Linked DNA regions of Homo sapiens. Changing the gene in region 2 together with the main gene of any one other region gives a genetic interaction. Each region holds a gene or a part of one and is shown on either strand. Other genes may lie near its edges. The genes, in order: DOT1L and NTRK1.

Evidence for each region.
Region 1: changes in NTRK1 (region 2) and DOT1L together harm fitness less than expected from each alone (positive genetic interaction), as found in Homo sapiens cells (one large-scale study listed by BioGRID).

Annotation. Positions count from the first base shown.
Region 1 is NC_000019.10:2,215,653-2,219,657, reverse strand, and holds part of DOT1L (histone-lysine N-methyltransferase, H3 lysine-79 specific), read right to left. Parts: intron 3,378-4,005; coding exon 2,893-3,377; intron 2,704-2,892; coding exon 2,568-2,703; intron 1,887-2,567; coding exon 1,740-1,886; intron 1-1,739. UniProt on the Homo sapiens protein: Histone methyltransferase. Methylates 'Lys-79' of histone H3. Nucleosomes are preferred as substrate compared to free histones. Binds to DNA.
Region 2 is NC_000001.11:156,874,365-156,877,864, forward strand, and holds part of NTRK1 (high affinity nerve growth factor receptor isoform 2 precursor), read left to right. Parts: intron 1-18; coding exon 19-36; intron 37-206; coding exon 207-262; intron 263-541; coding exon 542-644; intron 645-1,155; coding exon 1,156-1,302; intron 1,303-1,715; coding exon 1,716-1,846; intron 1,847-2,035; coding exon 2,036-2,208; intron 2,209-3,500. UniProt on the Homo sapiens protein: Receptor tyrosine kinase involved in the development and the maturation of the central and peripheral nervous systems through regulation of proliferation, differentiation and survival of sympathetic and nervous neurons.

The DNA.
Region 1 (4,005 bases), on a different chromosome or scaffold from region 2:
CAGTAGAGTGACCGCAGAACCCAGTAGCTCCACTCCCACATGGGCCAAAGAGCAAACCTACATCCACACAGAAACCTGGACCCCAGCGCTCACAGCAGAACGATTCACAATCGCCAAAACAGGGAATCAAGCCGGGGTCCATCAACTGGGCACGGATGAAGATGGCACACTCCATCCACACAGGGAATGCCCTCACGTGCCAAGAGAAGGGACAGGCCCAGACATGAGCGTGTTCGGGGGCCCGGGGGCTGGGGGACGACTAGGGAGTGACTGCTGAGGCGGGCAACGCTTTTTCCCGGGTGAAGAAAATGTCCTGAATTAGACAGAGGTGTATAAAAGTACAAAAAACCGGCCGGGCACGGGGGCTGACACTTGGAATCCCAGCACTGTGGGAGGCCGAGGCGGGTGGGTCGACTGAGGCCAGGAGTTCGAGACCACCCTGGCCAACAGGGCAAAACCTCCACCTCTATTAAAAATACAAAAATTGGCCGGGTGCGGTGGCTCATGCCTGTCATCCCATCAATTTCGGAGGCTGAGGTGGGCAGATCACCTGAGGTCAGGAGTTTGAGACCAGCTCGGCCAAGATGGTGAAACCCTGTCTCTACTAAAAATACAAAAATCAGCTGGGCATAGTGGTGCATGCCTGTAATCCCAGCTACTCGGGAGGCTGAGGCAGGAGAACTGCTTGAACCCAGCAGGCGGAGGCTGCAGTGAGTAAAGATCACAAGATCGTGCCACTGCCCTCCAGCCTGGGCAACAGAGCAAGACTCCGTCTCAGCTGGTGGGGGCGGGGATTAACCGGGCGTGGTGGTGGGCACCTGTAATCCCAGCTACTCGGGAGGCTGAGGCAGGAGAATGGCATGAACCTGGGAGGCAGAGATTGCAGTGAGCCGAGATCACACAATTGCACTCCAGCCTGGGGGACAGAATGAGTCTCCATCTCGAAAAATAAAAAAAAAGAAAGAGGCCAGACGTCGTGGCTCACGCCTGTAATCCCAGCACTTTGGGAGGCCCAGGCGGGCGGATCACTAGGTCAGGAGATCAAGACCATCCTGGCTAACACGGTGAAACCCCATCTCTACTAAAAATACAAAAAATTAGCCAGGCGTGGTGGCGGGCGCCTGTAGTCCCAGCTACTCGGGAGGCTGAGGCAGGAGAATGGCGTGAACCCGGGAGGTGGAGCTTGCAGTGAGCCGAGATCGCACCACTGCACTCCAGCCTGGGCGACAGAGTGAGACTCCGTCTGAAAAATAAAAATAAAAAATAAAAAATAAATGCTAAAAACCACTGAAGCATATACTTGAAGCGCACAATTTTTAAAAAATAGTTCAATGCCCAGAAAATCCCGCCCATGCTACACAAGACGAGATTCTCTGCATGCACAGCGCTGGGTGGGAGAACCCAGAGGCAGCTGTGAGGACAGGGGCCACGGCAGCCAATGTGGCCTCGTGAGGAGTGAGGCTGGGAGCCAGGGTGGGCCTCTGAGCTCCTCCTCAACCCAGAAGGTGTGAGGCCCTCTCCACTTGCACACGTACCTTTCACCCAAAAGAAAAAGACTGGCGAAAACAACGGCCCAGGTCACCGGACACGCCCCGGCTTTGGACAGCCCACCTTGACTGCATTGCCTCACGCTCGACATTTTACAGCGTGAGACTTCGCAAAGTGAGCCAGGTCTCGAGCACCCCAGACTGTTTTGCCTCAACGTGGCCCTTGGGGACAGCCACCTGGGAGCCACTCACCGCCCTCTCGGCGCGGCTGGGCAGCACCACGCTGGCCAGGGGAATGCTGACCGGGAGCTTGTTGGGCTGCACGGTGCTGAGCGGGATGCTGATGGGCAGGCTGGTGATGAGCTCCCCGCTGCTGCCGTAGGCGCGCTCTCTCAGGCCCTGCAGACGAAGGCCCGACCCCCAGTCGTGGGTCAACAAACCCCTCCAGGACACAGGGACCACAGCCACAGGACGGGGGCCTGCTACAGCTCTCTCAAGGCGGCCCCCACGCTGCCAAGGCCCTGCAACCTTCCCCACGCAGTCAGGCCCTCCTGGACACCGGCTTTGGGACACTCCAGAGGGACGGCACGCTCCTGGTGTCTGAAAGCAATGCCCATCTGTCCCCTCCAGCCTGCCCGCCCGGCTCGGTGGGCAGTCACCCGTGGGGCCACCAAGCCTCCCAGGGCCCACATCCATCACTGCCAAGTCCATGCAACGTCACCGTCCTTCCCTCTCCATCCCTGTGCACACAGGCCAGTGCCCCCGGGGAAGTCCTCATGGGCAGCGGCCTCCCAAACTGGGCTCTGTGTCTCTACCAGCACTTGCCGTCCGTCACTGAGAACTAAGAGGCATCAGGGACACCCTGACAAACCCCATGTCCTCCATGGCACCTGCCCAACGTCACCTGTGACCTGTCCTTACTGGTTGCCCCCAACTCTGCCACAACATCCTACTCCAGGTCAGCCCCAGTACCTCACCGTGCCCCAAGGTCAACTAGGACAAGCCCTCCTGCTAGCAACTCGCTCAGGCCGCCTCTGCTGAGCACCTCCCTGAGCCCGGGGCAGGGGTCGCGGCCCGCACCTTCTCACTGCTCTTCTCTCCAGCAAGCTGCAAGGCCCCAGGGGACAGGGGCCGCGGGTCCTGAGGGCTCAGCTTCATGCTGCCAGGCACGCTGGGGCTCTGGTAGGGAAGGCCGTTCTCCTTGGTGTGCTCAGCTCTGGAATGAGAAGCTGCAGTCACTCTCGAGGGCCGTGGGCTGGCACTCAGAGGCAGCGGCCTGGCCCAGCACCTCCCCACCTCAGTCTCCTCAACAAACACACTCCTGCTGAGAACCCGACAGCCTGAGCACACCAGGCAGAGTCGGCAGGTACCAGCTGCAGACCCCCAGCCCCACCAGGGCACTCACCTCGAATGCAGCTCACTGGCAGCCGGCCTGCCGGGCACCGTGTGGTCCTGGCTCAGGTGCCGCCTCAGCACAATCTTGGCCGGGGACAGCCTAGTGTAGTCGGGTGCGGCTAGGCCAGACAGCTTCTCCAGGCGCGGCCGGCCGACGTGGCTAGGGGTACAGGGCACCACCTCCTGGTCCAGGGGTGAGGCCAGGTACTGGGGCGTGTTCTGCTTCGACGAAGGCCGGCTCAGCACACCGCAGAGCTCATAGCCAGCAGCCTGGCCGTTCATGGAGAGCTCCGGGCTCATGCTGCTCAAGTGAGGCAGCGAGAACTTGGTGCAGTCCAGCTCCAGGTGCAGCCGGCTGGCGTCAGGCTCCAGCTCGCGGCCCAGGGCGCCCTTCCCACGCAGGTGCAGGGACAGGGCGTCGTCAGGCGGCACACAGGACTTGAGCTGCAGGAGCTCCTGCTGCCGCTGGCTCTTCTCTAGCTCCACAATGCTGATCTGCAGGAGGAGAGATGGTGTCAGGCCCGCCCCACCGGGGGACCACTCCAGGGAACCAAGACTGCCACAGATGGACACCCGGAGGGGTGGCCAGGACCCCCGCTGCTTGTGTGGGATGGAAAAACCAAAGCTGCCGACCACATAGAGGCGGGGTCGGGAAGCTGGGGGCGTCAAATAAAGTCATGTGGAGGGCCGAGGATGGTTTTTGCTGACATGGAAGCACCTTCTTCAAAAAGAGCAACAGGAAGATACAAAGAGCTCTCGTCTCTCAAAATAGACTCTAAGTGTAAAACATCCAGTTTCACTAAGTGTAAAACCTGTGGAGGGACACGCCACTCGAGCGTGGCAGCTTCCCCGGGCGCTGAGTCTGAGAGGGGCTTTTTCCTTTTAGTTTATCTGTTCTGTTTACCTGCTTTCCTTTCTTTTAACAAACACATTGTTTTTTTATTACACAGAAAAGATGATGACAAAAATGGTCAGAACCCAAATATGCTCTTCCCGAGGGCTCTACTCCAGGCAGACCCACAGGGCCCGGCTGTGGTAAAGAGGTCGGCGACCTCCGTTTCTCTAATGTACGCTGGTGAGGCTCGCCTGGGCCACACACGTGAGGGAGCAGCTCGGGAGCACG
Region 2 (3,500 bases):
TCCTCCCTCCTGCTGCAGTCTCCTTCTCGCCGGTGGGTGAGTAGCCCAAGGTGGAGGGCAGGTTCTGCCTGGTCTCTGGAGCTGAGGCTGGGGCAGAGGGTACAGCTGAACTGATCCCTGAGAGACCAGCTGGGGCCAGGGTTGGGGGGTTACTGGAGGCTACAGTGTGTGTCAAGGCTCACCCCTCCTGCCCTGTGTCCCTACAGACACTAACAGCACATCTGGAGACCCGGTGGAGAAGAAGGACGAAACACCTTTTGGGGTGAGATAGGAAGTAGAAGCTTGTGCAGACTTTGGGACCGGGAGGCTGGGTAGAGGCTCATCTGCATGTCATTTCTGGTCAGAGCAGGGAGATCACTACCATCTGGCCTGAGCTCTGACGGCCACCCGCACAGCCACTGCAGGGGTCCCCAGGGGAGGATGAGGCAGGTCTGGAGACCTGGCTCCGGGCTCCCATGCAGGATGAAAAAATGGCTTACTACAGGAGGCTCTGAGAGTACAGGAGGAGCCCCTGGATCTAACTACCCCTGTCCCCCACCAGGTCTCGGTGGCTGTGGGCCTGGCCGTCTTTGCCTGCCTCTTCCTTTCTACGCTGCTCCTTGTGCTCAACAAATGTGGACGGAGAAACAAGTTTGGGATCAACCGTGAGTCGGGGCTGCAGAGGGCTGTCTGTCTGTCTGTTCTCCTGGCTTTGTTTCCTACTGGCTCTTCCTGACTCTGTCTCTGGGGGGCTGTGCACATGGGAGTTCCAGGGCGTGTGAGTGTGTTTGGGGTATAAATGAAGGCCTGGCTGTGAGGCTTGTGAGTGTGAGTGTGTGTGGGAGCGTGTGTCGGGCTGGTGCTGGGGTAGTTTCAGAGGCGGCAGCTGCTAATTGGTGGCTGGATTGTAGTCAAGCATTAAGTGGGTCTGGGAGGTCTGGGCTCTGTGGGGGTGGAGGGGGAGTTCTTTGGTGCCCATGGGGCCAGGGGTGGGACAGGAGCCAGCACAGGGAGAGGCGGTGGTGCCCCCTTCCCCCTGCCTGCTGTCTCGCTCCCTAGCTTCTCAGTCTCTCCCCTGCAAGTTACAAGGTGGGGGTGACCAGGCATCCTGCAGGCAAGGGTGGGCAGGGCCAAGGTGTGGGCAAACCCCTCCATGCGGCTGTGTCTCCTCTCTAGGCCCGGCTGTGCTGGCTCCAGAGGATGGGCTGGCCATGTCCCTGCATTTCATGACATTGGGTGGCAGCTCCCTGTCCCCCACCGAGGGCAAAGGCTCTGGGCTCCAAGGCCACATCATCGAGAACCCACAATACTTCAGTGATGCCTGTGAGGGGCTATGCTGGGTCAAGGGCAGGGACGAGTGTGTGTGTGTGTGTGTGTGTGTGTGTGTGTGTGTAGAAGCCCCTAGGCCTGAACGATCCCTCCCTTTCTCCCACCCCTCCCCAGCCCTATTCCAGCCATAGGCCCTGTCATATTCTTCTCAGGCTGAGTCCAGCCTGGCTCTTAGCTGCATCCCCTGCCCAGAGTCACAGCTAGCCCAAACCATGTCCTCTCGGGGCAGGTGCAGCCCCACACTATGACATGGGGCTTGCTGAAGGGGTGCAGGTTGAATTTTAGCCCCCATGCAGTCCCTCGTCTGGGCAGCCTTGTGCAGCACACAGCCCTGCCAAGACAGTCCCCGCTACAACCCCAGCCCTCCCAAGACTGGGGCTACCGTCTGACCCTGCAAGCCCCCTCAGGTGTTCACCACATCAAGCGCCGGGACATCGTGCTCAAGTGGGAGCTGGGGGAGGGCGCCTTTGGGAAGGTCTTCCTTGCTGAGTGCCACAACCTCCTGCCTGAGCAGGACAAGATGCTGGTGGCTGTCAAGGTGAGACCCTGCCCCGGGGGGTACTGCTGGCCTGGGTCCCACCCCCAGGAGCTCCATCACATCAGGACAGAGTGGGGGGAGATGCAGAGGGCTGACATGGCTGGATACCGGGGTGGGCGGGCTGCCCTGGGTGAACAGCAGTGAGGGCTCGGCCCCCAACTCAGTCCTGTCCCTGCCGCTTCCATCCAGGCACTGAAGGAGGCGTCCGAGAGTGCTCGGCAGGACTTCCAGCGTGAGGCTGAGCTGCTCACCATGCTGCAGCACCAGCACATCGTGCGCTTCTTCGGCGTCTGCACCGAGGGCCGCCCCCTGCTCATGGTCTTTGAGTATATGCGGCACGGGGACCTCAACCGCTTCCTCCGGTACCAGCACCTGGCCTCAGCGCTGGCCCCGGCCCCTGGCTCTGGGCCCCGTCTTCCCTTCCCTATAGACATCCCTGCTTGTCTTTCAAACCAAGGGGAGACACCAAGAAAGATCAGGAAGGCACATTCCCGTCCCCAGGGAGCTCTGAGATGGTAGAGGAGGCAGATGTGTGAACATAGGGGTGACTCTTGCAAAGGACAAGTGTCAGTAGTCAGGGAGGTTGCGATGGCAAAGGCCGTGAGCTAAAACTTTGGGGTGGGTGGGCTTTGCAGAGGGTGTATGTGCATTTGTGTGTGGCACACAAAGGCCAGGCCTGTAAGGGTAGCAGTTTAGATAACGACAGTAACAACGACAGTAATGAACATTTATCAGGCACCTTCTATGTTCCAGGTGCTATGTTATATACTTTATAATTTATTATTTTTTATTTTTTAACATGTATTTATTACTGTTATTGTTTTAGAGTTGGGGTCTTGCTCTGTTGCCTAGGCTGGAGTGCAACGGTGTTGCAATAATAGCTCACTGCAGCCTCAAATTCCTGGGCTCAAGCAATTCTCCCGCCTTAGCCTCCCCAGTAGCTGGGACTACAGGTGCACACCATTGCACCTGGCTCTACAATTTGTTCTTATTATGGTTCTATGTGCTGGTACATATATATCTTGTATAGTAATATAAATATGTATTTATTTTTTATGGCCTCCAAGCATATATTGCAATTTACACTTGAAGCAAGTTACAAAAAATTCATTTCTTTGGCTTCGGACAGAACAACTCTGATACATTTATCTATTTGTGCTGATAATTTTAATAACTTCGAGAAATGTGCCTGTTTCACAGATAAGGCTTAGAGAGGTTCAGTGACTTGCCCAAGGGCACACAGGTAGTGAATGGCCCAGGGGTGATGTGGCCCCAGGCAGAGCCCCTACTCTCAGCCCCTGATGTGATGGTCACATGTTCCCTCGGTCTAGTCCTTCTCTGATGAGATCACCCCCGGGAGGATGGGGCAGTGTTTGCAAGGCAGGGAGAAGAGCAGGGTTTGGAATCAGCTGCCACTTATGAGCTGAGCCTTCTTTGCCAAGTAGCTTTCCTCTCTGACCTCACTTTCCTCACCAGTAAGAGGGACAGTGTGGGGGCTGTGGTTCTGGATGAGCAAGCGCTGTATGGTTGTCCAGTTGATGGTCATGATCTGGTCCCCAAACATCCCTTTGGGAGTGATGGGTCATTCATGCAGTCAGGCTGCAGGACTCAGCTAGGAGAGACCCCTGAGTCTTGGGCTTATCCTGTGGACCAG